2 linked regions of the Homo sapiens genome follow. The protein of the gene in region 1 interacts with the protein of each later gene in a biochemical or structural test. Each region holds a gene or a part of one and is shown in the gene's direction. Other genes may lie near its edges.

Region 1 (15,207 bases):
CCAGGGGACAAGGATGGAGGGGGGTGGGGACAAACATAAAGGAATAGCACAAGGGGGTTCCTTTGTGGTGATGGGTTTTGTATCTTGATTGTGGTGGTGATTATCCAAATCTATACAAGATATAAAACTGCACAGAACTACAAACAAACAAATAAATGCATGTAAAAAATGGTGAAAACTGAGTGAGGTCTGCAGGCCAGTTAACAATACTGTACCAATATCAACTTTTTGGTTTTGATTTTATGCTACAGTTACATAAGATGTCACCATTAGGGGAAACTGAGTGAAAGGTACACAAGACTTCATGTGCTATTTTTACAACTTCCTCTGATCTATAATTATTTCAAAATAATTTCCAAGCCAGACATGGTAATCCCAGCACTTTGGGAGGGAGGGAGGTGGATCACTTGAGGTCAGGAGTTTGAGACCAGCCTGGCCAATATGACAAAAACCCATCTCTACTAAAAATACAAAAATCAGCTGGGCGTGGTGGTACACACCTGTAATCCCAGCTACTCAGGAGGCTGAGGCACAAGAATCGCTTGAACCCAGAAGGCGGAGCCTGCAGTGAGCAGAGATAGCACCACTGCACTCCAGCCTGGGGGACACAGTGAGACTCTGCCTCAAAAAAAAAAAAAAATTTAAAAATTTTGTGCTTCTAAGGATACCACTAACAAAGTAAAATGATAATCCATGGAATAGATTATCCACTCCACTCCATGGAATAGATTAATACACTGTACTTCAGCCTGGGCAACAGAGTGAGACTCTGTCTCAAAAAAAAAGAAAAAGAAAAAGAAATGTGGCTAGTATGACTGAGAAACTGAACTTTTTAAATAAATTAAATGTAAAAATGAAAGATTAATAATCTTTATAAAAATTTCCAAAATTTTAGACGTTGAGAAATGTCCAGATCCAGCCAAGATTTTAGCCCTTTAGCTTTTGTATGAGTGGAAGCTGAGGCTTTCTCCAGCTCCTTCCCTTTTCAACATCTTCTTCCCCACTTTGAGATCAGTATTTTTCAGCTCCCTCAAATCACACTTTTTGCAACTGTTGTCTCTAGCTTACAAGCAAACACTTCCAGAACACACACTTCAGGGCTAACTTCTCCCTCCACCTCATCTGGCAACAGAGCCTTGGAGCTTATGTCCCAAGGTCAGGCTTTTCCGTCCCAACATGCACACCATGAGAACTTTTTTACTTCACTCACCTCTCCAGCACTGGAATCCTTCTGCCTGCCTCTGAATTCTGGTTGTAGTCAAAGCTTGAACCATGGGAGTGGCTGGGAGGAAAAGAACATAAATGTGATTGAGGGAATTCAGTGGGGAAACAGCTTGACCGCTCCGGTCTTTGACGATCCAAAAGAAACCCTTAACACTTGAGAAGGACTGGGAGGTCACTTACCAAAGGGAGCCATTTGGACTGTCTCAAGGGCCCCCTTTCTTTGAGCACTGGCTTCAGGCCAACATTTGGAACTTAGCCACACCACCACCAACCCCCTCTCTTGAAGCCCAGCCAGATCTCCCAGTATGTGAAGCCTTGTCTACTCACTCTGTGTCCTCCCTCAGCCCTCATCCAACCCCTAACAACTCAGCAGCTTCCAGCCCTGTTTGGCCCAGCCAGTCAGTTTGGAGCTTGCTAATTAAAGCTAACTCTGAAAGAGACCTCAAAAGAAGAGGGAAATGAGTGAAGAAAGGAGTGTGGAGTTGCATTCATTCAGTCCAAGGGAAAATAATCTGAGTAGGAAATCGTAAGGAGAGGTGAGCAGAAAGAGACTTCAAATTTCAAGAGTCATTCTCCAGATAGATATGTATGCGACTTGTGTCCATCTCTACCAAGGACAAGTGAAGCTGAGCTTCAACTGCAGCAGAAACTAAGGTTAGACAGTGAACAATAAAGGCCCAGAAAAAGAACAGATGGAGGATAACCCTAGAGAGATCAGATGGGGACACTAGATACAGATACCCCATGTCCTCTGCTCAGCTCTAGGGCAAAGGAACAGCCAGTGTGTGGGAGAGAAGGGAGAGGCTAATGTCTGCAGAATCCTGGCAGTCTCTACACCGATTGTGAAAATGTCAGGCAGTTGTGCCAAGAAGGGTGAGGGTAATACAGGATGGGCCTGACACTCTCCCTGAGTTGGCCTAATCTTAACATTTAGACTCACTTTTGAGACCCCCCCAACACTAACCCCCATTAGCCCTCACCCTCTGTTTCACTTATCCCATGTCACCATTATCTTGACACTTCCAACCCATGTCCTTCTCTTCCAGGCCCCACAGCTCTGGAGGTGAGGCACCAGGCATTTCCAATCTGCCTCTATTTTGCTTGCTCACTGCAGTTGGAAGCTGGAGCCAGAGAGTGGGGAGGACAGAGCCAGGCTGCTCTGTGATGCTCTCACTCTTCCCACTTCTATTGATTAGCCCTTCTCTGGAGCAGAGCCTCTTCTCAAACACTCCTCCCCTGCCAGGATTCTCTACAGCTCATGCCCAGCAAGCTAGAGGGGCATAATGATTAGAGACAGAGAGATTCCCAGAAAAGTGCTCTGGGTCTACCCTCCTGGGGTCTCAACTGTGGTTTATGCAGTATACAGCGGTAAGACTCAGGCTCTGGAGTCAGATAGCCTGGATTTGTATCCTAGCTCTACCACTAATGAACTCTATTACTTAACTGCCTTGTACCTCAGATTCTTCATCTGCAAATTTGGGATACTCGTAATAATATTTCACAGAACTGTTCTAGGGATTAAATGAATACATACATGTAAAGTGCTTGACTATGATGAGTACTAAGAAATGTTTAGAAAGAAGATACAGTACACATATAATTTAGACACATACACACAGTATCTAACGTTTTTATTAGAATTTTTATTTTGGCACTTAAAATGTTTTGCTTTATGCTGCCACTTAAGCATTTCATGTGCTTCTCCTCACTAATCCTTTGACAGTTGCACATCTCCCAGGATTTGGGATGCTATTCTGCAAATAGTTGAATGAATCATTGATCAGTAATTCTCAAATCTTACTCAGAAAATTCAAGAATGTTTTCTTCTAATGCAATCAGCACCCATTTCTCCTCCCCCTGCAAGTAAATATAATGACGTCAACTTCAACTATGCCAATGAATCACAAAATGAGAGAATGCCAAAGCTGGAAATAGTTTTAGATATGGTTTAGCCCAGTGAGTTTCAACCCTGGATACACATTAGAATCACCAGAACAGCTTTTAAAATATACTGATAAGGCCAGGCACGGTGGCTCACACCTGTAATCCCAGCACTTTGGGAGGCCGAGGCGGGCAGATTACCTGAGGTCAGGAGTTCAAGACCAGTCTAACCAACACGGTGAAATGCCATCTCTACTAAAAATACAAAAATTAGGCCGGGCGCGGTGGCTCACGCCTGTAATCCCAGCACTTTGGGAGGCCGAGGCGGGCGGATCACGAGGTCAGGAGATCGAGACCATCCCGGCTAAAACGGTGAAACCCCGTCTCTACTAAAAATACAAAAAAAAAAAATTAGCCGGGCGTAGTGGCGGGCGCCTGTAGTCCCAGCTACTTGGGAGGCTGAGGCAGGAGAATGGCGTGAACCCGGGAGGCGGAGCTTGCAGTGAGCCGAGATCCCGCCACTGCACTCCAGCCTGGGCGACAGAGCGAGACTCCGTCTCAAAAAAAAAAATACAAAAATTAGTCAGGTGTGGTGGCACATGCCTGTAATCCCAGCTACTCAGGAGGCTGAGGCAGGAGAATCGCTTGAACCTGGGAGGTGGAGGTTGCAGTCAGCTGAGATCATGCCACTGCACTCCAGCCTAGGCGACAGAGCGAGACTCTGTCTCAAAAATAATAATAATTTTATATATACATATATACATATACATACATATATACACATATATACGTATACATACATATATACACATATATACGTATACATACATATATACATACATATATATAGTGATGTTTGGTCTTCACTCCTTAGATTCTATTTAATTAGTCTGGAATCAAGGCTTTTTTTTTTTTTTTTTTGAGACAGAGTCCCACTCTGTCGCCCAGGCTGGAGTTCAGTGGCGTGATCTCGGCTCACTGCAACCTCTGCCTCCCAGGTTCAAGCGATTCTCCTGCCTCAGGCTCCTGAGTAGCTGGGATTACAGGCTTGTGCCACTACGCCTGGCTAAATTTTGTATTTTTAGTAGATACAAGGTTTCACCATGTTGGTCAGCCTGGTCTCGAACTCCTGACCTCGTGATCCGCCCGCCTCGGCCTCCCAAAGTGCTGGGATTACGGGCGTGAGCCACCGCACCCGGCTAATCACGGCATTTTTATAAGCCTTGTGATTTCTGTGATTCTAATGTTTAGATTCTAATGCTTAGCCAGGGTTGAGAACCACCGATTTAATCCAATCCCTTCTCCTAGTTTTACTAAAGAGAAAACTATAACCTAGAATGGTGAGCAACTTGCCCAAAGTCACCCAACATGTTAGTGCAAGGTGCACCGAGAGAGATTGTACCAGTAGCAAGAATATGCTCATGATGTTTATAATTGTTCTCGCTGGAGTTAATCCCGGAAGCATTTCTTTTTAGTTCACAGAGGCCTTATATAAATTACTTTTTACTTTGGCACAGCACTTACGCTTCTGCTAACACTGAAATGGGTTCGCATTCCTGACCACAAAAGGACAGAGATGAAATTCTACATTCACACAGCCCGCCAAGTTAGCCAAGCTCCCTAGGAGGCTGTCTGAAGTGCCTAAAATGCTTCTCTACAATGATCACCCAGAGCTGAGAGACTTCAGTGGGGTAGTGAGAAGAAAGAGGGTTGGGAGAGACAGGAAAGCATCCTCTCCTTGAGGGAAGGAACTGGGAATCAACTGAGAACCAGCTAGCACTGCCAGGAGGTGAGGAGAGGGAAGGAGAATAATTTAAATGAGGCCAGGGAGCTTCTGCTCCCTCAATTAAACGGTGATAGACGGCCTGACACCACCAGCCCTCGAAGCCTGAGATCCACAGGAAATGTTAAAAACTGGCTTGGCAATATAAGTATTAGAAAATACTTCTTCCAACACTCACCAAAAACTAAGCTCCCAATAAAGAACACTTCACCTGCCCTCCGCAACCCTCTACCTCTCTTCCCCGCCAAGATCTTCACCCAAGGTCTCAAGAGGGCGGTTCCCAACCTCACGTGACACAGCGGTCACGTGACATGGCCCCGGGGAGCCGAGGTGAGCGTTCCAGCTTCCGGAGCCGGAGGGGGCCCGGCGTACCCAGCCCCCAGCCCGACGTGACCATGCTGTCCCGCCTCCTAAAAGAACACCAGGCCAAGCAGAATGAACGCAAGGAGCTGCAGGGTGAGCCAAATATCCTGTCGGCCGTTTTCTCTTCGGCCGCGGCCTAGCTTCAGCCCGGAGCCTGGATCTCGAGTAACTAACCATATCCAGGGAAAGACGCCAGCTAGCGGGCAACGGGCATGGGGGAGAGGGAATTTCAGAGAGGCTTTTTTTGAAACTCCTTTCCCTTGCCAACTGGCTCCGGTCCCTTGGGCAATACTCCGGTCCCCTCGGCAACGCCCCCAATCCCCGACCTGCCGCACCTTAGCCCCGCCCCTGCCCCGGAGCGCCCTGCCTATTGGCCCTGGGAGCCTCTCGTCCTGGCGGCGGGAAGGAGCGACTCTGGAGGGAGGAGGGTGTGGGGAACCCCCCAGAGATGGGCTTCTTGGAGGCCTGAAACCACCGGAACGGAGGTGGGGCACTTGTTTCCTGAGTCCGGGCTGGAAATCTCGGAGTTACCGATTCTGCGGCCGAGTAGTGGAGAAAGAGTGCCTGGGAGTCAGGAGTCCTGGGCGCTGCCGCTGACTTCCTGGCGTCCCTGAGTGAGTCCATTTCCCTCCCAGGGTACCAGTTTCCTCATCTCTAAAATGAAAGAGGTTGCGCTATGTTTTGCAAGGTCCTTTTCAGCTCCGGCATTCAGAGATTAGTTAAGAAATTTCGGCAACTAGCAGAATAGTAATGGATGGGTAGGGAACCTTTAACACTACCCCTCAAAAAACCAAGTCTCCCCTCCAATTCCTTTTCCCCCTCTCCCCAGAAAAGAGGAGGCGAGAGGCTATCACTGCAGCGACCTGCCTGACAGAAGCTTTGGTGGATCACCTCAATGTGGGGTATGGACCTCTTATCAACATCAGTTTCCTCCTTCCCCACCCCGCCCAAGTTTAGGCACTGGCCAGTCTGGCCCTCAAATAGCTGTTGAAGGGGTGGGATGTTCCACTAATTCCCCTATCCTACCCCGCCCCTCCCAGCTCTTTGTAGAGCAACTTGAGTCAACTCTGAGTCCTAGCACTGGGCAAGGGAGGAACAGCTGCCGTGGTTAGAGAAGCAGCCAGATTTCCCCTTCCCCACGTTAACTTCCCTGGCATTTACAACTTGATGCCATCTGCCCACCTCCCTTCACCCTTCCAAGTCCAGCTGTCACTTCAGCAGGAGGGAGAGCACCCTCCTTCATTACAGCTTACCACCCTCTCCTCTGCCTCCCACCCTCTGGCAAGCCTGGGGAGCAGCTGGCAGGAAAGAGATGGCAGAGCTGGTGGTGGTGAGAGTAGAACCTGTTCCGGGAGCTATGGCAGAGCCAGGCTGTCTCTTACCTTCCTATTGGGTCTCTAGGGACCACACCCTGCCCCAGCCCTAAATGAGAATGCAAGTAACAGCCAAAGACTTGGGAAAAAGCAAAGAACATTGTCTCTTGACCCTAAGTGACCCAGAAGCGTGCAGAGATGATGATTTGCTAGTCTGCCTATTGGAAGAAAGGCAGTATGGTACCTTCCACCCCAGGTCAAGTAGAACAGCTCGGTGTGAATCCAGAGACTGAGTCATCCAAGTGAGCCATGCAGGGGCTGGGGTCATCTTTGTTACTCATCTTGGGGGAAGGTTGAGAGAAAGAAAGTTGTGGCTGGGGCCTCTGATCTCCCTTCTCTCCAGGCAGCTCTCTTTACTCAGTGTGAATATAGAAGCAGGTGGTCAATGGGGAAAACCAGAAGTTCAGGAATTCTCAGGGGAGTCTGTTTCAGTTCCTACCCGACCCTTGACAGTGACCCAGCTGTCTCCCAAAAAGAAGGAACAGGGTCTGCCCTCCCATTTCCTCCCTCCCACATTGGCACCTCCTGGGCTCTGCTGTGCCCATCATTTGTGAGATTGGCCCAGGCCTTTCCCTCTTCTTTTCCTTTGCTAGATGCCACCCCACTTTCAGCTTAGAGGGCAGCTAAGCCAAAGCCAGATTAGAAAGGGTTTTGTGTTGCTGCCCACGCCTCCTCTCATTCCCCGGAAAGGAAAACAAAGGCTCAGTCTATCTTGGCCCCTGTCAGGTGTCCTGCCCACTCCCTCAGCCCCCACCAACCCCTTCCCCGCTCCAGCCCCCACACATTCCAGTGGGTGGGGGCACCGGATGTGGAATCTCCTGGCTGAGTAGAGCTCTGGGGTGGGAAGTGAAAAATTCAACAGCCAATAAAGGAGAACAATTATTGCAGGGGTTGGGGAGGGCAAAAAACACTGGCAGAAGGTTGGGGACACCAACCCCATGGTAGTAATGGTAACCACAGCCCATACCTTGATTGAAAAGAAAAACTAGTGCCTAAGGCAGAAGGGAGGGAGAGCATGTGTGTGTGTGTGTGTGTGTGTGTTTGTGTGTGTTCCTTGATCTGTGTGGGCAAAAGCGAAGGCTTGGGAGAGCAACTGAGAGCCGAGAAGAAACCCCTGGGATACCCTCTTTTGACCCAGGGTTCCTGGGGAGGGGGTTTGTACTCCCATCCTAACCCGGCTTCAGGGAGGGGCCCAATTTCCCTCTCCAACTTCTTGCATAGATCCCTAGGCTTCCAATCACTGCCAGATGTGTTCCTCCTGCTGGATTTTCCCAGTTTTTCCATGCCCCTTTTTCCCTCCCAGCTTTTTCCTCAGGGATATCACCCCAGGTTTTCCCTCCCTTCCCCCACTCAGCTGCAGGAACTCCTTTTTGGGGTTTGGAGCTGGTATGTTTCTAGTCAGCTCCGAGCTTGGCTCTCCTGGGAATCCTGGGAGTGAAAGGAAGGAGCTGGGTTTATTTGCATGTACTGGTAGTCATTTGCATCACATCCAAAAATGGCCAAAATTATGAGCCCTGATTCTTGGCTGAACTCCCACTGCTGCAATGGAATATTAGTCCCGGAGACCACCCCCAACTAGCTGGAGCTGATCTCCTCCCTCCTCCAACCCCCCAGTGTGGCCCAGGCCTACATGAACCAGAGAAAGCTGGACCATGAGGTGAAGACCCTACAGGTCCAGGCTGCCCAATTTGCCAAGCAGACAGGCCAGTGGATCGGAATGGTGGAGAACTTCAACCAGGCACTCAAGGTGGGCCATACTCCCTACCTCACCACCCCAATCCTGGGCCCCCATTGGCTGCCTCCAGTCAGGTTACCTCAGGTTTAGGTTAAGGAGGAAGTAGGGTGGTCCCAGAAACCCCATCTATAGCCCCAGTGTCAGAAAAGGTAGAGAAAGAAAGAAAAGCAGTTGGTGGGTCCAAGTAAAGCCTTTTCCAGGAGATGAATAAAACGTATTCCCCAGACTGGAAGCCATACTCTACCCATTCTGATTCCTGGGCTCCCACCTCCTCTCCCCCTTCCCAGGAAATTGGGGATGTGGAGAACTGGGCTCGGAGCATCGAGCTGGACATGCGCACCATTGCCACTGCACTGGAATATGTCTACAAAGGGCAGCTGCAGTCTGCCCCTTCCTAGCCCCTGTTCCCTCCCCCAACCCTATCCCTCCTACCTCACCCGCAGGGGGAAGGAGGGAGGCTGACAAGCCTTGAATAAAACACAAGCCTCCGTTTCTCTGTGGTGTGTTTCAGAGAGCTACTAGCTCCAGTGTCGGGGGTGGGAGTGGAAGGTTCAAAGGTGGTTTCCCTGAGGGACAGGTACCTTTTGGGGAGAGGGTGGAACTAGCTTCCTCTTACTATCCCAACTCTCTTCTCCTCCATGGCCCTTGTGCAGGTGTCTGTTAGGCAAGCAGAGGGTGGGAGTTCCCATCCCTCCTGAGAGAAGGTCCTAGTAGCCCTGCCCCAAGCTTCCTAATTCAGGACTTGTTTCCTACAGAAGAGAAACAAGGCAAGGTACAGGCCTGGTCCCCAGCTCTGGCTTTCTGCCTCTCCACGTGCTCATGGCCTCTCCCAGGCTAACTCTAAGCAGTGTCATGAGTCTGAGCCAGGTGGGAGATTAATTCCTGGGGGCACTTCAGGGCTGAGAAGGGGGAGGAATGACAGGTCCAGTAACCGTTACCAACAGAGCAGTGCAGCTGCCATCCTTGACAGCTCCCTCCTCCTTGGAGACCATGACATAGATGGTCAGGAACCCAGGCTGAGAAAGACAGCCAAGGGGTGGGGGGAGCCTAGGCAAATCTGGCCTCTGCCAAGTCCTGGCTTCAGCCAGGCAAGCTCCAGCCTCCCTGGCTCCTCCTCCTCCTCAGTCCTATCCCCACCCTGTCACACATACACTTAATACGCCTGGCATCCAAGTCCACCCACTCCGGACTTTGGCCTTAGCAGTAGTTAGTGTGGGAGGCTGGGAAGACTGGGAGCAGTCTCTTAAACAAAAGCAAAAGAATAAGCTTCGGGCGCTGTAGTACCTGCCAGCTTTCGCCACAGGAGGTAAGTGGATACTGGGAGCTGGGGGAACTGAGAAGACTAGCCAGATATTACATGTATTGCCAACTCAAAACTTTCAGCTTTTAACATGCTTCCTCACACATTATCCCCTTTGATCCTCCACAACTCTGAGGTGGACCTGGTGGGTCTTAGCCCCACTTGGTAGATGAGAAAATAGGTTGAGAGAGACAGTGAGATGCTCAGTATCACACAGCAAACCTCTTGGCCCTATACATCATTCCAAACACAAGACCCAGGTTGCATATAGAAGGTTCAGTGTCCCTGGTTTAGAAGGAGAGGTGGTGTGAGGCAAGCAAGAAGATGCCTCTGCTGCACTCCAGCCTGGGCGACAGAGTGAGACTCCATCTCAAAAAAAAAAAAAAAAAAAAAAAGATGCCTCTGCTCCATACAGCAGGTCTGTACACAGGATCTGGCTCATGTGGTTTTAGTTAAGTTAGCCACAAATACAGGGTCTGCCCACATCTTTGCTTTGAACAGATGAGCCATGGTTGGCCAATTATCTGCCAACCAGATAATTTCTCAATATGCTCACACCAGATGCTTCCAGCTAGGGAGGGTATTAGGGGAAAGGGCTTGAGGGCCACAGTAAACTGGACAAGTTTTTCTGCCCAGCCTAGGCTGCCACCTGTAGGTCACTTGGGCTCCAGCTATGTGGCTGCCTCTTCTGCTGGGTGCCTTACTCTGGGCAGTGCTGTGGTTGCTCAGGGACCGGCAGAGCCTGCCCGCCAGCAATGCCTTTGTCTTCATCACCGGCTGTGACTCAGGCTTTGGGCGCCTTCTGGCACTGCAGCTGGACCAGAGAGGCTTCCGAGTCCTGGCCAGCTGCCTGACCCCCTCCGGGGCCGAGGACCTGCAGCGGGTGGCCTCCTCCCGCCTCCACACCACCCTGTTGGATATCACTGATCCCCAGAGCGTCCAGCAGGCAGCCAAGTGGGTGGAGATGCACGTTAAGGAAGCAGGTAAGTATGGTAGACCACCAGGAATATGGTGTGGGGTGTCCTGATCCCCACAGTCACCCCAGGAGTCACCTGCAAGGGCTGTGGTAAGCTAAAGGGACAATTTGAGGAGAAGCAGTTTTCAGATGCTCCCAGGAAGAAGAGGGAGCTGTGGGAGTGCCTCACCTACCCCCAGCATCCTTTTCATCTCCCCACAGGGCTTTTTGGTCTGGTGAATAATGCTGGTGTGGCTGGTATCATCGGACCCACACCATGGCTGACCCGGGACGATTTCCAGCGGGTGCTGAATGTGAACACAATGGGTCCCATCGGGGTCACCCTTGCCCTGCTGCCTCTGCTGCAGCAAGCCCGGGGCCGGGTGATCAACATCACCAGCGTCCTGGGTCGCCTGGCAGCCAATGGTGGGGGCTACTGTGTCTCCAAATTTGGCCTGGAGGCCTTCTCTGACAGCCTGAGGTGAGGGGTACAGGGCTCTGGGTTCCAGGACTAACAGCAGCCCACTCAACAAACGTGGGCCAGCAGAGGTGGTTAAGATACAGCACATTGGAATAGTTAAGAAGAGACAGTTTAGGGCTAGACTTCATGGGTTCAATGAAGTCTACCCTTATGTAAGCTTTGTGACCATAAGTAGATTACTTCTCTTTACCCATTTTTAACGTGTTTGTTTTTTGTTTTTTGAGATGGAGTCTTGCTCTGTCGCCAGGCTGGAGTGCAGTGGCGCGATCTTGGCTCACCACAATTTCCACCCCCGGGGTTCAAGCGATTCTCCTGCCTCAGCCTCCCGAGTAGCTGGGACTACAGGCATGCGCCACCATGCCTGGCTTATTTTTGTATTTTTAGTAGAGACAGGGTTTCACTATGTTGGCCAGGTTGGTCTCAAACTCCTGACCTCGTGATCCGCCCACCTCAGCCTCCCAAAGTGCTGGGATTACAGGTGTGAGCCACCACGCCCGGCCTTGCCTCTCGTCTTTAAACAATAAGGTTCAAAGTTCCGTGGGAGCACAAAGGAGACATGATGAGGACAACGGGAGTAGGGCCTGAGTTTTTTTTTGTTTTTTTTTTTTTAAGCGTTTTGCTCTTGTTGCCTAGGCTGGAGTGCAATGGCGAGATCTCAGCTCACTGCAACCCCTGCCTCTCAGGTTCATGTGATTCTCCTGCCTCAGCCTCCCGATTAGCTGGGCTTACAGGCACGTGCCACCACTCCCAGCTAATTTTTTTGTATTTTTAGTAGAGATGGAGTTATACCATGTTGGCCAGGCTGGTTTTGAACTCCTGACCTCAGGTGATCCACCCGACCCGGCCTCCCAAAGTGCTGGGATTACAGGCATGAGCCACCACACACGGCCCAAGGCCTGAGTTCTTAGCAGGAGTATAAGGCGCCTAAGCTTAGTCTACCTTCTAAGGAAGCCTGCGTTTGTCACCATCACTCAGCAAATAACCTGAATGTCTCCTGTCTCTCAGCCTTAATTTTTCAGGCAGCATCATGGGACACATACTTTTAGTTTTGAGACAAGGCCTTGCTCTCACCCAGGGTGGAGTGCAGTGGTGCAGTCACGGCCCACTGAACTTCAAACTCCTAGGCTCAAGCAGCTCAAGCGATATCCGCCTCAGCCTCCTGAGTAGCTGAGACCACAGGCGCGTGCCAGCATGCCTGGCTAGTATTTTTTTACAGATGGGGTCTTGCTGTGGTGACCAGACTTGTCTCCAACTCCCGGCCTCAAGCGATGCTTCCGCCTGGGCCTCCCAAAGTGTTGGGATTATAGGTGTGAGCCACTGCATACTGGAACACATACTTTATACTTGAATTTTTTTTTATCCCCTTCCCTCCTGCTCCTTACCTATACTTGGATTTCTACATCTGTGCCAGGGCAGTGGGATGTATCCCCACTTTCCCCATCAGCTTACCCTCCAGCAAATACGAGACTATACCCTTCAATATCCAGCACTCAGGGCTCAACCATGTGTTTTGGGAGCAAGGGAATGGGGTTCCTCTAGGTCAGGAATCGGCAAACTCAGTACTCAAGCCAGATCTGGCCAGCTGCCTACAAGCTGATAATGGTTTTTTTTATTTTTAAATGGTTACATTGTAAACTGTTATATAAGTACCTGATAATATCATTAATTTTGTTTCTTGGCCTGCCATGCTTAAAATATTAACTCTCTGGCCCTTTAAGAAAAAAACGTGCTGACCCCTGCTCTAGATCAAAGAAAACAAACCTCAAAAATACTTTCCTCCCTCTACCCCACTTGACCCTTGTCCCGGGGCAGTAGGCATCTCCGTCAAAACTCTTGTCCCTGGTCTGTGGTAACTTTCTCAGCTCCCCAACCCATGTCCCTCAAAGTCCCCTCCCTATAGGGCAAGAACCCAGCAACTTCGCTCTGCCCCGACTCTAGGCGGGATGTAGCTCATTTTGGGATACGAGTCTCCATCGTGGAGCCTGGCTTCTTCCGAACCCCTGTGACCAACCTGGAGAGTCTGGAGAAAACCCTGCAGGCCTGCTGGGCACGGCTGCCTCCTGCCACACAGGCCCACTATGGGGGGGCCTTCCTCACCAAGTGTGAGTAGCCAGGCCCACACAGGGGCACATGAAGGGAAACAAGTACCAGAAAGGCCAGTCCTGCATAAGCCTGCTAGGAGGTGGGTGGGGCACCCAGGGCAGGGTTGAGGGTGAACAGGATGTTACAAGAGTGCCCAGGCCATGTGGAACCTGCCCACTCCCCACACTGAGGAGGGGACTGAGGGTGACAAGCCCAGGGCCCCAGAAGACAGTACCTAAGATGGGCTGGAGTGAGGAAGGGAAACTGATTGCAACCACCTATGGGGCTGCAGACCTGAAAATGCAACAGCGCATCATGAACCTGATCTGTGACCCGGACCTAACCAAGGTGAGCCGATGCCTGGAGCATGCCCTGACTGCTCGACACCCCCGAACCCGCTACAGCCCAGGTTGGGATGCCAAGCTGCTCTGGCTGCCTGCCTCCTACCTGCCAGCCAGCCTGGTGGATGCTGTGCTCACCTGGGTCCTTCCCAAGCCTGCCCAAGCAGTCTACTGAATCCAGCCTTCCAGCAAGAGATTGTTTTTCAAGGACAAGGACTTTGATTTATTTCTGCCCCCACCCTGGTACTGCCTGGTGCCTGCCACAAAATAAGCACTAACAAAAGTGTATTGTTTAAAAAATAAAAAGAAGGTGGGCAGAAATGTGCCCAGTGGAAGGCTGACCCCATTTAAGTGCCAACTACTCCAAACCGACATGCTCACGGTCTCTGGCCTGTTCAGTCCCTGCAAAACAGCTAGCACCCACAGTGGGGCGCCAGGGAACTGCCTCACATCTACAGCTGCACGTCGGGGAGTGGCCATCAAAGGGCACTTTAATACATTTCCCTTATTTTCTGAAGGGGAGTAAGGTTGCAATTCAGTGTCTGTACTGGGAATGGTCTTCATATTTCTTGGGGGAGAAGAGCAGGTGATGAGGGTTCTGGGCCAGGCTGGGTGGCTTCCATGGAAGAAAAGGCAATATTCACATAAATTCTCCTGCTAAGGACACTGACCACACAGGTGTCAAGGCAACTTATCATACTTCGAAAGGAGCTGGATCCCTTGAGGATTGGCCAGGAAGGGAGGTGCTGGGCCCTTAGCGGTGCACAGAAGGCCAGGAAGATGTCCAAGGCAGATGGGGGCTGGGCTCTCGCAGGTGGGACCTTTCTGGGGAGCTGCTTTGACTTATGCAGCAGATGGCTTCATGAATGTTCATAGTGAGCCTGGCAGCATAAGACTAGGGGGCAGAAAGCACCACAGTCTCTGGATCCTCACTTCTCCCACTGCCTGCCCAACCAACACCTTCGCAAAGTCCTCCTTTCCCAAACACCCCCCAAAATAGACCTCGAAGTACACATGCATTAAGGTCCCAGAGGACAGGGAACATCAGTAAGGAAAGGAAGGAATCAAGCATCACTCTAAGACAAACTCAGACCATCTCTTTTCGGTCTGAAAAAATAATCCGTTTAATTGAAAAACCTGGAGGATACTATTCCACTCCCCCAGATGAGGAGGCTGAGGAGACCAGACCCCTACATCACCTCGTAGCCACTTCTGATACTCTTCACGAGGCAGCAGGCAAAGACAATTCCCAAAACCTAGAAGGAAAGATGGGGACAGGGGTGGAGAGGAGTCAGAAGGGCTAGCTACCTCAGACCCATGCAAGAGACTCCAAACACACACTCCCAGGCCAGTACCTCCTGTTCAGCACCCTCCTCCCCTCAGCCCCTTCCCTCCAGGCACCCTGGACAGAGTCCCAGCCCCTGCTCAGGGTTATCTCTTACCTCGACAAAAGCAATTCCAAGGGCTGCTGCAGCTACCACCAGCACATTTTTCCTCAGCCAGCCCCCAATCTTCTCCACACAGCCCTGAAGGTGGCAGGCACAAAGGACAAAAGCACCATCAGAAACTTCCCACCCCAACCCCCTCCCTTGGTCCATCAGTCTCTTCCCTGCCCCTGTACCTTTCACCCCACCCTTAGCATTTCCAGATCCCCTCCCCATCCCTGACCCTGTCCACCTCCATCCTGGG
Region 2 (10,392 bases), on another chromosome or scaffold:
AAGTTGTTCATGAAAGGGTTGCACTGGCTCATAAATTTGGGAAATGCTGAGTTAAACTGGTTTTTTGTTTCTTTTCTTGAGAGAGGGTCTCACTTTGTCACCCAGGCTAGACTGCAGTGGCAAGATCATAGTTCACTGCAGCCTTGACCTCCTGGGCTCAAGCAATCCTTCTGCCTTGGCCTCCTAAGTAGCTGGGACCACAGGTGCAAACCACAACATCGAGGTATTTATTTTATTTTTTTAGAGACAGGGTCTCATTATGTTGACCAGGCTGGTCTGAAACTCTCAGGCTGTCAATTCTCCCATCTCAGCCCCACAAAGTGCTGGGATTGAAGGTGTGAGCCATTGTGCCCAGCCTAAACTGGTTTTCTAGATTTCTTTGCTACAGGACTTCTCAGAGCCTTTGCATTGCTTACTTTCATTAGTAACTTCCAATATAATTTGTAACATTTCTCAAACTTAATTAACCAAAGAACAACTCCCCATTTTTGTGGAGCATTTTTTGGCACTACCACATAGATCATTTCAGAACCTTTGTCTTGTCGTAGAACTTGCCCTATTTTATAATTATTTTGTGCAGGCCTCTCCCCTTCTAAACTGTGGGCTGCTTAAGGCAGAGACAGTATTTTATTTATCTCTGGATGCACAGTGCCTAATATATAATAGCTACTCAATACATGTTGGTTGAAAGAATATGGGAAAGGGAAGGTAAGAGAGGAAGGGAAAGAATGGTGAAATAAGAGAAAGAAGGCTTCTTGAGGCTGGGCGTGGTGACTCACACCTGTAATCCCAGCACTTTGGGAGGCCAAGGTGGGTGGATCACCTCGGTCAGGAGTTCGAGAGCAGCCTGGCCAACATGGTAAAACCCCAACTCTACTAAAAATACAAAAATTAGGCAGGCATGGTGGTGGGTGCCTGTAATCCCAGCTACTCGGGAGGCCGAGGCAGTAGAATTGCTTGAACCTGGGAGGCAGAGGTTGCAGTGAGCCAAGATCGCACCACTGCACTCCAGCCTGGATGAAAGAGCAAGACTCTGTCTAAAAAAAAAAGAAGAAGCCTTCTTGATTTTTACATTTAACATCCCAGAAACCCAGTACTTAGATTCTACCATAAATATTTTATTCTACTTGCTTCATCACATCTATCCATCTATCCATCCCTCGCATCAGCCATGGATCCATCTTCACTTCCTTTTTACTTGTGTGTGTTTGCAAGCTTATTTTTCCTCAGATCGTGGAAACACCTTAATTCTGAAATCCTCTTGGAACAAGCATCCTGATAGACTGTATTGTTCAGCTCCTCCTTGCTCATTCCCAGCACCTCCCACTCTTCCCCTGACACAGGCAGGCCTCTCTTTGTGGAATGAGCGGTGCCTCCTAGAGGGAGGGAACTTTTTAGAGCACGAAGAGTCTGCCCACCCCAGGGGTCAGAGACACTGCTTGCTCGCTCTCATTACCATGTTTAATTTTAAGGAAAGTGCAGAATGTTTCCGGACTTGGGTTTTCCCGCTTCTCAAAGGAAAGGTTGAGGCCTAGGATTCCATAAGGTCCTCCCTATCCCAGGATAATTATTACTGACCAAAGAAGGGATTGCATTGACCAAACTCTTGCCCACTGGAACTGCTCCCAGGGAGGGTCAGATGATGTCACCTTCCCCAGGAGCCAGGGGGCAGGTGTGAAGTCCCTGGGCAGACACCCCTGTGTTGATCTCGCTTCTTGAGGAGGGAGAGCCTTGTGTGTTGAATGCTGAGAGGGCTTTAGAATGGCCGAGACTCCATTTCTAACCAGCTGTGTGGCTTTGGGAAGACCCCTCACCTCCCGGACTCTCAGTATCCTAGTCTATGAAAAAGGGGATTATACTCTCTCACATCTGGAAGGGTTGGCTGAGATAAGGCTGGTAGGGCACAGGCCACGGTACAGAAAGGGGGCACAACAAATGTAAGTCATCCCCATCCCCGCCTTCAGCCAGGCAGAGGGCAGCAGGCCAGGGAGCCCATGGTTGTCTGCCAATGTTGCCAGCACAGGTGTCTGGGCCAATGAGGGTGCATCTCCTCTCACAGAGGCACTATTGTTCCCACCAGGGGAGCTGGACGTGAGCGTGACTCTTGGGAAGGGAGGAGGGAAGATTAGAGGCACTAGAAGGGCTGTGAGCAGAAGATAATGCTGCAGAAAGCTCTGCTCCCCCAGAATGACCTCGTGGCCTGCTAGTATCCCGAAAAGTTCTGTGCAGCCCACTTCTATCAGGGCTGGGCCATTAACTCAAAAGTGTTCTTGGTGCACAGGAATGTTCTTTGTGACAGAGTCTATCACCCAGCATTGACAGAGCCTCTTCTGAGCCCTCATGGTTCCTTCCCACGGGGCAGCCTGGGCTCTCATTCTCATTATCTCCAAGGAGCCTCACACTCTATGAAGTACCTGGGGAAAAAACCATCATCCCATCTGTATTCGTTTGCTATGGCTGCCATCACAAAGTACCATAGACCGGGTGGCTTAAACAACAGAAATTCGTTTTCTCACCGTTCTGGAAGCTGCAAGTCTGAGATCAAGGAGTTGGCAGAATCAGTATCCTCTGCGGCCTTTCTCCTTTCTTTGTAGGTGGCATTCTCTCCCTGTGTCTTCCCATGGTCTTCCCACTGTAACTGTCTGTGTCCTCTTCTTATAAGGATACCAGCCATATTGAATTAGGGCCCACACTAATGACCTCATTTTAACTTAATTGCCTCTTTAAAGGCACAATCTGTAAATAACAGTCACATTCTGAGGTCCTGGGGGTTAGAGCTTCCACATATGGATTGGGTGGGTGGGGAGTGGACAGATGCAGTTTGGCCCATGTAGCATCTTACAGGTGAAACAACTGAGGCCTAAGAGGGTCAGTGGCTCATACTGGGCAGGGCCAGACCTAGAATCAGGACAGGAGACCCTCCCTCTCTGCCTCCACTCACAACCCAGCCTCCACTTGCCTGTCCCAAAGAGGAAGAGGATGGTGGGTGAGGGCAGTCATCCGTCTGACTCCCCACCAAACCTCCCAGCTGGTGGCAGTGACAGGTCAGGCAAGCCACTGTGCTGGGCACAGACAGGAATAGCAGAAGGGGAGACATTCTCTAGGGCAGTGCTTTTCAAACTTTTATATGCGTGGGGGAATTATACCTGGTGAACTCCATTAAAATTAATTATTTATTTATTTATTTATTTATTTATTTATTTATTTTTGGGTTTTTTTGAGTCAGGGTTTCGCTGTGTTGCCCAGGCTGGAGTGTACTGGCTGTTCACAGGTACAATCATAGCTTACTACAGCCTCGAATTCCTGGACTCAAGAGATCCTCCTTCCTCAGCCTCCTCAGTAGCTGAGACTACAGAGCTGTGCCACCGTTCTGGCTAAAAATTAAGTAATTTTAAGTAATTAAGTTAAAATGAGGTCATTAGGATGGGCCCTAATCCAATCCAGGCTCTGACTTGGCCTCTCTGGGGAAGGGCCCAAGACTCTGCATTTCCCACAGGCTGCCAGGTAAGGCCAATGCTGCTGGTTTCTAGACCACACTGAGCAGTAGCAAGGTTTAGACCAGCACGCTCCATGAGAAATAGATGTCATTCTAAATTTTCTAATATCACATCAAGAAAAGTAAAAAGAAACAGGTGGGCCAGGTGCCATGGCTCAGGCCTGTAATCACAACACTTTGGGAAGCCAAGGTAGGAGAACAGCTTGAAACCAAGAGTTTGAGTCCAGCCTGGGCAACATAGTGAGACCCCATTTCTATAAAAAATAATTGTAAAAATTAGTTGAGGCCGGGCGTGGTGGCTCATGCCTGTAATCCCAGCACTTTAGGAGGCCGAGGCGGGCGGCTCACTTGAGGTCAGGAGTTCGAGACCAGCCTGGCCAACATGGTGTAACCCCGTCTCTACTAAAAATATATACAAAAATTAGCTGGGCGCGGTGGTGCCCACCTGTAGTCCCAGCTACTCGGGAGGCTGAGGCAGGAGAATCGCTTGAACCCAGGAGGTGGAGGCTGCAGTGAGCTGAGTTCACATCACTGCACTCCAGCCTGGGCGACAGAGCAAGACTCCATCTCAAAATAAATAAATAAATAAATAAAAAATCAGTTGGGCAGGTTAGCGCCTGCTGATAGTCCTAGCTACTCAAGGGGCTGAGGCAGGAGAATTGCCTGAGCCCAGGAGTTGGAGGCTGCAGTGACCTATGATCATGCCAGTGCACTCCAGGCTGGGCGACAGAGAGAGAGCCTACCCCTAAAAAAAAGAAACAGGGCTAGGCCTGGTGGCTCACGTCTGTAATCCCAGTAATTTGGGAGGCCAAGGTGGGATGATCGCTTGAGTCCAGAAGTTTGAGATCAGCCTGGGCAACAGAGTAAGACCTTGTCTCTACAAAAAACAAACAAACAAAATATGGCCGGGCATGGTGGCTCATATCTGTAATTCCAGCACTTTGGGAGGCTGAGGCAGGTGGATCACCTGAGGTCAGGAGTTCAAAACCAGCCCGGCCAACATGGTGAAACCCAGTCTCTACTAAAAACACAAATAGCTGGGTGTGGTGGTGGGCACCTGTAATCCCAGCTACTCAGGAGGCTGAGGCAGAAGAATTGCTTGAACCCGGGAGGCAGAGGTTGCAGTGAGCTGAGATAGTGCCACTGCACTGTAGCCTGGGTGACAGAGCGAGACTATGTCTCAAAAAAAAAAAATTTTAGTTGGATGTGGTGGTGCACTCCTGTGGTTTCAGCTGCTCAGGAGGCTGAGGGAGGAAGATGGCTTGAGCTAGGGAGATCGAGGTCGCAGTGAGCCATAATCATGCCACTGCACTCTAGCCAGGGTGAGAGAACAAAACCCAGTCTCAAAAAAAGAAATGGGAAAAATTAGCTTGTGTGTGTGTGTGTGTGTGTGTGTGTGTGTGTGTGTGTGTGTATTTTTTTTTTGAGATGGAGTCTCACTCCATCACCCAGGCTGGAGTGTAGCGGTGTGATCTCAGCTCACTGCAACCTTCACCTCTAAGGTTCAAGCAATCCTCCTACCTCAGCCTCCTGAGTAGATGGGATTACAGGTGCCTGCCACCATGCCCAGCTAATTTTTGTTTTTTTGCAGAGACTAGGTTTCACCATGTTGGCCAGGCTGGTCTCAAACTCCTGACCTCAAGTGGTCCTCCCTCCTTGGCCTCCCAAAGTGCTGGGATTACAAGCTCTAATATATTTTTAACCCAATATATAACAAACATGATGATGATAATTTCAGAACATTAAGCCTTATAAAAAGTGTTAATGGGATATTTTACATTATTTTGTTTGTACTAAGTCTTTAGATACTTTATAGCACATCTCACTTGGGACTCTAAATTCTTATGAGAAATACTTCACAAAATTTACAGTTAAAAAAATAGGATCACACATATAAATTGTTCTAAACCTACTTAAAAGTTTTCAAAACACTGAATCCAGTATTAGTTTTTAAATTTAAATTTAAGTTAATTAAAATCAAATAAAATTAAAAATGTAAGGCTGGGCACAATGGCTCACGCTTGTAATCCCAGCACTTTGGGAGGCCAAGGCGGGGTGATCACTTGAGCTCAGGAGTTCGAGACTAGCCTGGCCAACATGTGAAACCCTGTCTCTACTAAAAATACTAAAATTAGCCGGGCATGGTGGTGCGTGCCTGTAATCCCAGCTACTTGGGAGGCTGAGGCATGAGAATCACTTGCACCTGGGAGGCGGAGGTTGCAATAAGCTGAGATCGCACCACTGCACTCCCGCCTGGGTGACAGAGCGAGACTCTGTCCCCTGCCAGACTCCCACAAAAATTTAGTTCTTGGGTCGTATTACCCTATTTATAAAAATTTTTTTTATAGTGAGACCCAATCTCTAGCATTACCCCATTTCGAATGCTGAAAAGCTACATGGGGCTAGCGGCTACTATATAAGACAGCATAGGACTAGACCACCAGGAAGAAGAATGACATAAATGAAGGATCCCCAGCTCCACAGAGGACTTGGGACAGAAACAGCCCAAGACCCAGACAGCAGCCAGAGTAGGAGCCCAGGGAAAGGGCTTTTGGAAACAAAGAGCTCAAGGTGACTCAAATGCACCCCAAGATCTAAGCACCAGGCATTGCAGCCTGCTCTGGAGGAAGGGGTCGGCAGGAGATGGGGTGGTGGGAAGAAATCCCAAACCTGCCAAAGTAGGAATGGGTGGAAAAGCAAGAACTATGTCCAGGGAAAATAAAAAAGCACTTCTGGGGTTGGATTCTGGAGAGCGACCTGTGCAGGGGAGCTTGACCTTCTCCTGGGCACCTCTAGGAGGCAAAACCAGGACCAAGGGTGGTCATTATAGGAAGCTGCTTGGGGCTCAAACCAACAATGAGGTTTTAAACAAGGAGAGCTCCCCAGTAATGGAAACAGGGAGCTTCCCGCCCTTGGAATCCTAGACAGAAAATGTTCTACAGGAATTACCTCCTCCTCATCCAGTGGAATAGCAAAACAGAGGCTGGGAAGTTACCTGTTGAGAGGCTGCAGAGGGGTTTCTTCCTGTACAAAGGATTGAATAATAAGTTCCCTCCAGTTAGGCACCTATTGATACTGTATTTGGAGTAACTGACCTTTCCAGAGGACTTATTGTCAGGCAGCTAAACCCCTGAACTAAGCACTTTACTGCCATTTCATCCGCACTAAAGTCATGAGCCTGGTCCTCTAGTTTTCTACACTTCTTAGAGGAGGAAACTGAGCCGATGAGTTTTGAAGTCATGTTTCCCGGCCAGAAGATGCTCGAGCGAGGCTTTACAGGCGGGCAGTCTGGTTCCAGGGCATGCCACTGCACCACACTGCCCAGAAGGAGGCTCAGCCTGTCTTGTCCTCTCCCTGCTTGGCCTTAACCAGCCACATTTCTCAACTGACCCCACTCACTGCAGAGGTGAAAACTACCATGCCAGGTCCTGCTGGCTGGGGGAGGGGTGGGCAATAGGCCTGGATTTGCCAGAGCTGCCACTGTAGATGTAGTCATATTTACGATTTCCCTTCACCTCTTATTACCCTGGTGGTGGTGGTGGGGGGGGGGGGGTGCTCTCTCAGCAACCCCACCCCGGGATCTTGAGGAGAAAGAGGGCAGAGAAAAGAGGGAATGGGACTGGCCCAGATCCCAGCCCCACAGCCGGGCTTCCACATGGCCGAGCAGGAACTCCAGAGCAGGAGCACACAAAGGAGGGCTTTGATGCGCCTCCAGCCAGGCCCAGGCCTCTCCCCTCTCCCCTTTCTCTCTGGGTCTTCCTTTGCCCCACTGAGGGCCTCCTGTGAGCCCGATTTAACGGAAACTGTGGGCGGTGAGAAGTTCCTTATGACACACTAATCCCAACCTGCTGACCGGACCACGCCTCCAGCGGAGGGAACCTCTAGAGCTCCAGGACATTCAGGTACCAGGTAGCCCCAAGGAGGAGCTGCCGACCTGGCAGGTAAGTCAATACCTGGGGCTTGCCTGGGCCAGGGAGCCCAGGACTGGGGTGAGGACTCAGGGGAGCAGGGAGACCACGTCCCAAGATGCCTGTAAAACTGAAACCACCTGGCCATTCTCCAGGTTGAGCCAGACCAATTTGATGGCAGATTTAGCAAATAAAAATACAGGACACCCAGTTAAATGTGAATTTCAGATGAACAGCAAATACTTTTTTAGTATTAAAAAAGTTCACATTTAGGCTCACGCCTGTAATCCCAGCACTTTGGGAGGCCGAGGCAGGCAGATCACCTGAGGTCAGGAGTTCGAGACCAGCCTGGCCAACATGGTGAAACCCCATCTCCACTAAAAATACCAAAAATTAGCCAGGCGTGCTGGTGGGCACCTGTAGTTCCAGCTACTCAGGAGGCTAAGGCAGGAGAATTGCTTGAACCTGGGAGGCAGAGGTTGCAGTGAGCTGAGATCGCACCATTGCACTCTAGCCTGGGCGACAAGAACAAAACTCCATCTCAAAAAAAAAAAAAAAAAAAAAGTTCACATTTAACTGGGCATTCTGTATTTAATTGGTAATCTGAGATGGCAGGGAACAGCATCAGCATGGTGTGAGGGATAGGCATTTTTTCATTGTGTACAGCTTGTAAATCAGTATTTTTAAAACTCAAAGTTAATGGCTTGGGCATATTTAGAAAAGAGTTGCCGCACGGACTTGAACCCTGTATTCCTAAAATCTAGGATCTTGTTCTGATGGTCTGCACAACTGGCTGGGGGTGTCCAGCCACTGTCCCTCTTGCCTGGGCTCCCCAGGGCAGTTCTGTCAGCCTCTCCATTTCCATTCCTGTTCCAGCAAAACCCAACTGATAGCACAGCAGCATTTCAGCCTGTCTACCTCTGTGCCCACATACCTGGATGTCTACCAGCCAGAAAGGTGGCTTAGATTTGGTTCCTGTGGGTGGATTATGGCCCCCAGAACTTCCCTGTGCTTGCTGGGGGTGTGGAGTGGAAAGAGCAGGAAATGGGGGACCCTCCGATACTCTATGGGGGTCCTCCAAGTCTCTTTGTGCAAGTTAGGGTAATAATCAATATGGAGCTAAGAAAGAGAAGGGGAACTATGCTTTAGAACAGGACACTGTGCCAGGAGCATTGCAGAAATTATATGGTTTTCACGACAGTTCTTTTTGGTAGGTACTGTTATTATCCTCAGTTTGCAGATGAGGAAACTGAGACCCAGAAAGGTTAAATAACTTGCTAGGGTCACACAAGTCATAACTGACAAAGCCTGATTCAAACCCAGGTCTCCCTAACCTTTAAGGTTTCTATGACGCCAGCTCTCCTAGGGAGTTTGTCTTCAGATGTCTTGGCTCTAGGTGTCAAAAAAAGACTTGGTGTCAGGCAGGCATAGGTTCAAGTCCCAACTCTGTCACTTACCAACTGTGACTAGGTGATTGAACTGACCATGGAACCTGGTCACATGCAGGAGCAGGATGGTGAAGGGTTCTTGAAGGCACTTAGGCAGGACATTTAGGCAGGAGAGAAAACCTGGAAACAGAAGAGCTGTCTCCAAAAATACCCACTGGGGAAGCAGGTTGTCATGTGGGCCATGAATGGGACCTGTTCTGGTAACCAAGCATTGCTTATGTGTCCATTACATTTCATAACACTTCCATCCTACTTTACAGGGAACAACCAAGACTGGGGTTAAATCTCACAGCCTGCAAGTGGAAGAGAAGAACTTGAACCCAGGTCCAACTTTTGCGCCACAGCAGGCTGCCTCTTGGTCCTGACAGGAAGTCACAACTTGGGTCTGAGTACTGATCCCTGGCTATTTTTTGGCTGTGTTACCTTGGACAAGTCACTTATTCCTCCTCCCGTTTCCTCCTATGTAAAATGGAAATAATAATGTTGACCCTGGGTCTGAGAGAGTGGATTTGAAAGTACTTAGTGCATCACAAAGCACAGAACACACTTCCAGTCTCGTGATTATGTACTTATGTAACTGGTCATCACCCATCTTGAGAATGAATGCATTGGGGAAAGGGCCATCCACTAGGCTGCGAAGTTTCTGAGGGACTCCTTCGGGCTGGAGAAGGATGGCCACAGGAGGGAGGAGAGATTGCCTTATCCTGCAGTGATCATGTCATTGAGAACAGAGCCAGATTCTTTTTTTCCTGGCAGGGCCAACTTGTTTTAACATCTAAGGACTGAGCTATTTGTGTCTGTGCCCTTTGTCCAAGCAGTGTTTCCCAAAGTGTAGCCCAAGAACCATCTCCCTCAGAGCCACCAGGAAGTGCTTTAAATTGCAGGTTCCTAGGCCACAGCCTGCACCTGCAGAGTCAGAATCATGGAGGTTGGGACCCAGGCACCTGCGTTTCTAACAAATGCCTCGGGTGATTCTGATGCAATTGAAAGTTTGAGATCCACAGTTCTGAGACAATAACAGAATGGTTTTTCTAACCCCTGCAGCCCTGACTTCCTATCCTAGGGAAGGGGCCGGCTGGAGAGGCCAGGACAGAGAAAGCAGATCCCTTCTTTTTCCAAGGACTCTGTGTCTTCCATAGGCAACATGTCAGAAGGGGTAAGTACCCTGTCCTCCAGGGCTCTCCTCCACCCACCTTCCCTCTCTTCTCTCTCTTCCCTCTCCCTCCCTCCTTACTTCTCTATCTTATGCTCTGCCCGGGAATATAGGCACACACTTCTATAACCCCTGTGTGGGTCCTGACCCCACAAAAGGAGGAGGCTTAACAATGACCTTGGGCAAAAGAACTGAAGGTCTGAGCAGGCCCATTTCCCTGGCTGGCTCAGGCTGATGCGGTTGGCTGTTCCTCTTTTTCCTTTCTCTGCCCAGGTGGGCACGTTCCGCATGGTACCTGAAGAGGAACAGGAGCTCCGTGCCCAACTGGAGCAGCTCACAACCAAGGACCATGGACCTGTCTTTGGCCCGTGCAGCCAGCTGCCCCGC

The links.
Region 2: the proteins of RDH5 (region 1) and RLBP1 form a complex in vitro, tested with the Homo sapiens proteins (one study listed by BioGRID).

Annotation. Positions count from the first base shown.
Region 1 is NC_000012.12:55,710,853-55,726,059, forward strand, and holds RDH5 (retinol dehydrogenase 5), read left to right. Parts: upstream 1-9,540; 5' UTR 9,541-9,665; intron 9,666-10,295; exon of another isoform or gene 10,296-10,300; 5' UTR 10,301-10,332; coding exon 10,333-10,642; intron 10,643-10,836; coding exon 10,837-11,095; intron 11,096-12,682; exon of another isoform or gene 12,683-13,033; coding exon 13,034-13,197; exon of another isoform or gene 13,198-13,469; coding exon 13,470-13,693; 3' UTR 13,694-13,853; downstream 13,854-15,207. Other genes in the region: BLOC1S1 (biogenesis of lysosome-related organelles complex 1 subunit 1), read left to right, coding at 5,200-5,344, 6,081-6,153, 8,239-8,371, 8,647-8,757; CD63 antigen, read right to left, coding at 14,709-14,774, 14,961-15,044. UniProt on the Homo sapiens protein: Catalyzes the oxidation of cis-isomers of retinol, including 11-cis-, 9-cis-, and 13-cis-retinol in an NAD-dependent manner. Has no activity towards all-trans retinal.
Region 2 is NC_000015.10:89,218,580-89,228,971, reverse strand, and holds the start of RLBP1 (retinaldehyde-binding protein 1), read left to right. Parts: upstream 1-7,392; 5' UTR 7,393-7,437; exon of another isoform or gene 7,438-9,112; 5' UTR 9,113-9,235; exon of another isoform or gene 9,236-9,896; 5' UTR 9,897-9,996; coding exon 9,997-10,008; intron 10,009-10,278; coding exon 10,279-10,392. UniProt on the Homo sapiens protein: Soluble retinoid carrier essential the proper function of both rod and cone photoreceptors.